2 linked regions of the Homo sapiens genome follow. The protein of the gene in region 1 interacts with the protein of each later gene in a pairwise test. Each region holds a gene or a part of one and is shown in the gene's direction. Other genes may lie near its edges.

The links.
Region 2: the proteins of TEK (region 1) and DUSP18 interact in a two-hybrid assay, tested with the Homo sapiens proteins (one study listed by BioGRID and IntAct).

Annotation. Positions count from the first base shown.
Region 1 is NC_000009.12:27,112,214-27,115,964, forward strand, and holds part of TEK (angiopoietin-1 receptor isoform 1 precursor), read left to right. Parts: intron 1-3,751. UniProt on the Homo sapiens protein: Tyrosine-protein kinase that acts as a cell-surface receptor for ANGPT1, ANGPT2 and ANGPT4 and regulates angiogenesis, endothelial cell survival, proliferation, migration, adhesion and cell spreading, reorganization of the actin cytoskeleton, but also maintenance of vascular quiescence.
Region 2 is NC_000022.11:30,661,201-30,664,951, reverse strand, and holds the end of DUSP18 (dual specificity protein phosphatase 18), read left to right. Parts: intron 1-871; 5' UTR 872-948; coding exon 949-1,515; 3' UTR 1,516-3,507; downstream 3,508-3,751. UniProt on the Homo sapiens protein: Can dephosphorylate single and diphosphorylated synthetic MAPK peptides, with preference for the phosphotyrosine and diphosphorylated forms over phosphothreonine. In vitro, dephosphorylates p-nitrophenyl phosphate (pNPP).

The DNA of each region.
Region 1 (3,751 bases):
TTAAATAACAACTGGATTCAGAGATAGCAGACATCTTGTCTGGGGTGGCAGAGGAAACAGTTGTAAGGTCAGGGAAGTGCTCCCAGATGAAACCCCCTTGTTAGGGCTGGTCTCAGAAGGCTAGTGTCAAGTCTGAGTAATCAAGGGTGGAGGTCTGAAAGCTGGGATCGGAGACACCCTTTGGAATTATTCTCAGAGGGAGGAGCTTGCTTTTTTCACAGATGCTCCCTTCCAAGCATTGTCTTTATTGTTTGTTAGGTCTCAGCATTTCCCTTTCAGCCCTGCCCTGGGAGAGCTTCCTGGAAGAGTCTAGTTCTTCCAAGGCGTCTCTCCAGGAGGGAAGGAGTCTTCTAAGTTCATCTCAAAAGACTATGTGATGTTCTCTGGGGAATTTAGGTGGGTGGGCTCTAAATTCTTCTGAAATTATCAGTTTGCCTCCTGAGCCTCTATCTCCCCAAAGGATATCTGTGTGATTGTATCACCTGCTTATTCTCTGTAGATGGCTTACTGGTGAGCTCACAGAATCAGGATTTAAATAGATTGTTCTAGGCTGGAAGGGTGGAAAACCAAAACAAAAAGATACCATTTCAAAATAGGTAAATGTCTGGTTCTGTGTTTGGGTTCAAGAAATAAGTTATGTATATTTAATGTGGGAGAGACCTGGTTTGTTGAAAGTTCTTGTGAATGACACCTAGGTTTTGGGGATACACAAAAGTCATGGAAGACAACATAGGCTCTGCTTGCTAAAAAGGTACTGCATAAGCTGTCATATGTTGTATTAGCAGAAATATGAAGTCCAAATCAGAAATGGTAATCACTTCACTGAAATCTACTGCTAAGAGCACATCCATGAAGCACTGAAGACCTGAGAAATTTAACAGCGAACATAGCAGGCAAACTGAAGGAGGAAACATGGATTACAAAGTCAAAGCCCAACTTGGATAACCATAAGCAAGTTATTTAATTTCTCTAAGCCACATTTTTCTCATCTTTTATGGATGAAATACCCATTTTCCAGGGTTGTGATGAGAATCAAATGTGATAATGCCTGTGAAATGCTTAGCCAGTGAGAACTCTCTTAATAAATGAAGCTTGGGGCCTGGTGCTGTGGCTCACACCTGTAATACAGCACTTTGGGAGGCCCAGGCAGGTGGATCATGAGGTCAAGAGATCAAGACCATCCTAGCCAACATGGTGAAACCCCATCTCTACTAAAATACAAAAATTAGCAAGGTGTGGTGGTGTGTGCCCGTAGTCCTAGCTACTCGGGAGGCTTAGACAGGAGGATCGCTTAAACCCAGGAGGCAGAGGTTGCAGTGAGCTGAGATCACGCCATTGTACTCCAGCCTGGTGACAGAGTGAGACTCCGTCTCAATAAAATAAAATAAAATAAAATAAATAATGAAGCTAGTATAATCAAAAGAGAAGTGTTGCTATGAGAACCACTGTGCTAGTCAAGACTGATCTAATCTGCCCCAGGATGTAGGAGAACCACTTAATATTCATAGATGCTGTCTCTTTCTACAAAACCTCAGTATAATCCTGTCTCTCAAACTTTGTGCTGGCCAATTCCAACTGAATAAACCCAAACACTTTGCCAACTACCCATCTACCCTCCCCTCACTTATCCATTTATCCCTGTTTGTATCTTGTCTGCTTCAACCAGGCCCATCTCCACAATCTACACATTCTTTCCTCTTGGCTCTTGTTCATGCTGTTCCATCCATTTAGAAATGGCATCTTTCATCTCTACTCTGCAAACACAATTCAACTCAATTTGCCCAGGCCAACTCTTCCTCCTGATGTTCTTCCCCTAAGTTTAGGCTCCTTTACCATGCAGATTGTGTCTTTGAGCTTTGGGCAGCCAGATTTAGCCCAATTAGCCTCTAAATCTCTCACAACAGATATTATTTCTTTTCTATTCTCATTAGTACATGTATTTAATGTTTAGTAATTTCTGTTGAATGGAGTTTTATGGTCACAGTAAGAAAATGTTGGTACTTCACAGCGGAGCTGAAAGGAAAAGAGAACATTGTAGAAAGGATCTCAGTAACATCGAAATAATAATATTACATTGGGCCAGGCACGTTGGCTGATGCCTGTAATCCCAGCACTTTGGGAGGCCAAGGTGGGCAGATCACGAGATCAGGAGTCCGAGACCAGCCTGACCAACATGGTGAAACCTTGCCTCTACTAAAAATACAAAAGTTAGCTGGGCATGGTGGCATGTGCCTGTAATCCCAGCTACTCGGAAGGTTGAGGCAGGAAAATCTCTTAAACCAGGGAGGCAGAGGTTGCAGTGAGCCGAGATTATGCCACTGCACTCGAGCCTGCATGACAGAGTGAGACTCCGTCTCAAAAAAAAATAAAAAAAAATTTAATATTAGGTTGGTGAAAAGTAGTGGTAAAAACTGCAGTTACTTTTGCACCAATCTGATAATCAATTTTATATATCTTGTAAATGATATTCACTCTCATCTTAAAAGTTTAGCTTATATTAAATGTTTGATGTAAATAAAGTTGAAAGAAAGTTTCTTCTGTTAGGTGTGAAACATAAAAGATATACTCATAAAAGTGGTTCTAACCAGGGCCTTACTTAAGATGAGGTATTGTATGATTGTTGAATATTACCTATAACATAGTCGTATTTTCTATTCAATAGATATTTATTGAGTTACTGTGTGCCAATCATTCATTCATTCATTCACTCATCTATCCTTTCAATAAACAAAGACTTATTGAGGGTTTCCTTTGAGCCATGTACTGTCCTGGAAACTAGGAATATAAATAAGGATAAATAATTTTTTCCCTTTGCTAAGCTCACATTTTAGTGGGAAAAATGAATATAGGCGGATGAATTGTAAAATGTTGTGATAAATGATTTAATAGAGATATTACAGCAAATAAAGGTATTTACAAAATCTGAGCTTTTCAAGGGCTGTAAAAGTTTTTATTGGGTCCAATGATACAAAATGAAATAGCAATATCTGAATTGAGCATAAAGGTCTGGTGCAGTGGCTCACACCTGTAATCCTAGCATTTTGGGAGACTGAGGCAGACAAATCGCTTGAGCCCAGGAGTTTCAGATCAGCCTGGGCAACGTGGCAAAACCCCATCTCTACAAAAAATACAAAAATTAGCCTGGCATGGTGGCACGTGCATGTAGTCCCAGCTACTCGGGTGGCTGAAGTGGGAGGATTGCTGGAGCCTGGGAGGTCAAGGCTGCAGTGAGCCATGATCATACCACTGCCCTCCAGCCTAGGCAACAGAGCGAGACATTGTCTCAAAAAAAACAACAAACAAACAAACGAAACTAAATTGAACATAAATATTTAATTAAATGTCTAAAAACGTGGAATGTCAACTAAAGAAAATGAGTAGTATTTTGAAAACAACTTGTAGGTTGATTTTTCTGTCTTTGCAAGAACTCCTAAATAGTTGTGAATATTGCCAAAAGTCAGGTCCAGTTATAGTTATAACTTGCTCATAGCCAAATGATTTTGAAACCAAGATGAAAAGGAAAAGGGAAGAAAGGACATAGAGGGAGCAACCTATACAAAGGGGGTGTGTATAAAATAGCAGGGCAGGCTTAAGGAAGCTGAGTGAAGCTGTAATGTAGGATGAAGGTAGAGAATTAAAGTTGGGGTCAGATCAAGAAGGGCCTCACAGGCCATTTTAAGTAGGTTGTCCCTCATTCTGTACATGTTGAAATTTAGCAGAGTGTTTGTTCTATCATGTCATATATCAGATT
Region 2 (3,751 bases), on another chromosome or scaffold:
AAGGGAAGGGGTCTGCCTCTCCCTGGGGTGTGTTTCACAGCTCTGCTGCAGGCAGCATGATGCAGGTGTGGCAGGTCTTCCTAAGGCCCTGCTGTCTCTGTGCTTGTCCCTGGGGTTGCTGTGGTGCCCATTATGCTGGCTTCCAGGAAGCTTTCAGCCACTCCCTTTCCCAGGCCTTCTTCAGAGGCAAGGTGCAGGAGCATGTCTAACAATTTAGGACTTTGTATTTGACATCAGCTTCGCATGGGCATATCCTGTCTCTTTAAAGAGATGGTTCTTAGAGGGGGAAAATGGGAACCCTCCCTACTCTTATACCAGCCTCCTCAGTGACTGCCAGCACAGTGGGCTCTGGTTCCATGCCACTGGCTCAGGACCTTATGATTTGGGCATAAAGTCAGAAGACTGAGGAGGAAGACTGTACAAATGGTTCCCACTCAGAGGGGCTGGAAGGAAGGAGAGAATTTGGAAGAGCAGCAAGAAAAGGGCTCTGTGAGCTTAAATGGAGAATCAGGCCAAGGCACAGCTGAGGGACACAAGTCATCTGCCCAACTAGAGCTGTGGGACCCCTCAAGGGAGGCCTCAAGTGCCAGACTTGGGGACTTGCCATTTGTCCTATAGGGCAGTGCACATTAGACCACCTGAGAAGCATGCTGAAAATGCAGATTCATGCTCTTCACCCCGAGAGTCTGACTGTGGGTTTGGAGAGGGACCTGGGTATCTGTACTTTAAATGAGTTTGCTGGGTAGTTCTGCTGTGATGGTCAGAGGACTGCCTTGGGGAATGCTATAAGCCTATCCATCCATTTCCCAGGGATCCCCTGGAATTGGCCCTCTGGGCACCTGCCCTCTAAACATCCTCTCCCTCTCTGCAGTTTTCCATGGACACAGCCTAGCAGAAAGACGCAGCCTTCGTGCTTCGCTGACTGCTGACCACTGACCCACCGCCTTGATGACAGCACCCTCGTGTGCCTTCCCAGTTCAGTTCCGGCAGCCCTCAGTCAGCGGCCTCTCGCAGATAACCAAAAGCCTGTATATCAGCAATGGTGTGGCCGCCAACAACAAGCTCATGCTGTCTAGCAACCAGATCACCATGGTCATCAATGTCTCAGTGGAGGTAGTGAACACCTTGTATGAGGATATCCAGTACATGCAGGTACCTGTGGCTGACTCCCCTAACTCACGTCTCTGTGACTTCTTTGACCCTATTGCTGACCATATCCACAGCGTGGAGATGAAGCAGGGCCGTACTTTGCTGCACTGTGCTGCTGGTGTGAGCCGCTCAGCTGCCCTGTGCCTCGCCTACCTCATGAAGTACCACGCCATGTCCCTGCTGGACGCCCACACGTGGACCAAGTCATGCCGGCCCATCATCCGACCCAACAGCGGCTTTTGGGAGCAGCTCATCCACTATGAGTTCCAATTGTTTGGCAAGAACACTGTGCACATGGTCAGTTCCCCAGTGGGAATGATCCCTGACATCTATGAGAAGGAAGTCCGTTTGATGATTCCACTGTGAGCCATCCCACGAGCCCCTGCATTGGAGTCAGAGGTACAGATCTATTGTTGATCTTACACCAAGATCCAAACTTGAACATTCTACTTTTGTTGATACAGAAAAAAACAGATGATGCCTTTTATGAGCACAAAAAAGAGTTGCTGTAGCTTTTAACTTTATAATCCATTTTTTTTAAGATTAAACTAATTGTGAGATGGTGAAGATAAATTTTCTGCCCTGTGAGTGACACTGGCCAGGGGATAGGTTGAGGCAGATGGTGCCCAGAAGAAAGAGGGCAGCACCCATTGCACATGGCAGGCCTGGAATCCTGCAGCCCTCCCCAAAAACAGATTGACCCAGGAATGAATCTGCTACAATTCCACCTCATTCTTTCACACCCAGAGCCAGAGCCTTAAGCATCATGGTACCTCTTGCGCTTCTTACAGTGAGTGCCAATCTACTAGATAAATGGCCTTCAGGCAGTGCTCCAGGAATCCTGGGGGGTCCCAGGCCACCTCTGCTTCCACCTTCACTATAAGTGGCCCAGTTCTGGTTTTCTAGATTGTACTTATGCATAAGATAGTTTTTAAAGAAAGCATTCCACTGTGTAAATTTTTTTTTGTCTTTTTTTGAAACTGTCCTGCTCTGTCACCCATCCTAGAGTGCAGTAGTGTGATCATGGCTCACTGTAGCCACAACCTCTCAGGCTCAAGTGATCCTCTTACCTTAGCCTCCTGCGTGGCTGGGACTACAGATGTTTGCCACCATGCCCGCCTCATTTTTTTTCTTTTTTTATAGAGATGAGATTTTACTATGTCGCCCAGACTGGTCTCAAACTCCTGGCCTCAAGCAATCCTCACGCCTCAGCCTCCCAAAGTGTTGATGAGCCACTGTACCCCGATACCACTGTATAAAAAATTTAAAAAAAATTGTGAGTGCTATTGTACATGGCAAAGTTTCAAAGAGCTCTTGGCCATCCCTCACCAAACTTTGGCAAAAGATGGTGTTAGTCCCCTTCTCCAGGGCACATGAGAAAAACAGGCCTAACATCAGGTCTCAGCGGTTCCTCTCACAGGCCTTGGCTTGGAAGGCTGGAGCTTCGGACCAAGGCCCAGCCCTGTCACCTCCTCTTCATGTGATGTGGACCCCTGGGAGCATCAGTGTCCTCATCTGTCCAATGACAGCCCTTTTCTCACAGAGTTATTGTGAAGATTCAACAATTTCTTGGCATAGTGCCTGGCACATGGTGTGTGCTTAGCGCAAATGGCAGCTCTCATCATGAATGATAGACTCTTTCACCCTGCTGGTCCCAGGTCGGCACACACATCCCCATAATGGCATTTCTCCTTTCTGTGCACAGCACTTTATTGTTACAAAGTACTCTTCCAAAAAGTTACCCTGTGTGTAAAAAAAAAAAAAAAAAAAAATGGTTTAAGTCCTTTCAGACCCTACCTCACAGGAGGCCTAGACTTAGAGCCTTTTGAGAGCTTCCGTCTTGTTTAATCTAGGTGCAATCTAGAGGTCCTGAAACAAGGAGCACAGTTCCAGCTTCCCCCAATCACTTCTAAACAGTGACTGCAGCCTTGTTTAGAATCACTATGAAAACCTGCACCCCGGCTGACTACTGGGATCCATAAGGGGGCCGTGTCAAAGGGACTAACTAGTGGACTCCATCAGTAGGCCCTGGAATTCAGGATTGTTCACATCCTCTTGGTGCCAAGGACCTGGCTGAAGACCAGCTCTTCTGATCCAGAGGTTTTCAGCAAACAGCATTTGAAACAAAAGCACAGCTGCTCTGTTTGACACCAAACTGTGGCTCCAGATTCCAGTAGAAGCCAAATGCTTTTTCTTTTAACAGCTGGGTGCCTGTAATCCCAGTTACTTGGGAGGCTGAGGCAGGAGAATTGCTTGAACCCAGGAGGCGGAGGTTGCAGTGAGCCGAGCTTGCACCATTGCACTCCAGCCTGGGCAACAAGAGTGAGACTCCATCTCAAAAAGAAAAAAAAAAAAAAAGAAAAAGAAAAGAAAAAAAGAAATGCTTGGGACCAGAAATATTTTGGATTATTTTCAGGTTAATATTTGCTTTACCTGAAGCAAATATTACTTGAGCATCCCAACTCTAAAATCCAGAATGCTTAAATGAGTATTTCCTTTGATAGTCATTTCAGCTCTCAAAAAGTTTTAGATTTTGAGCATTTCACATTTTTGGATTTGAGATCCATGAATGGGTCTCAAACTATATTTCACTTGGCGGGGG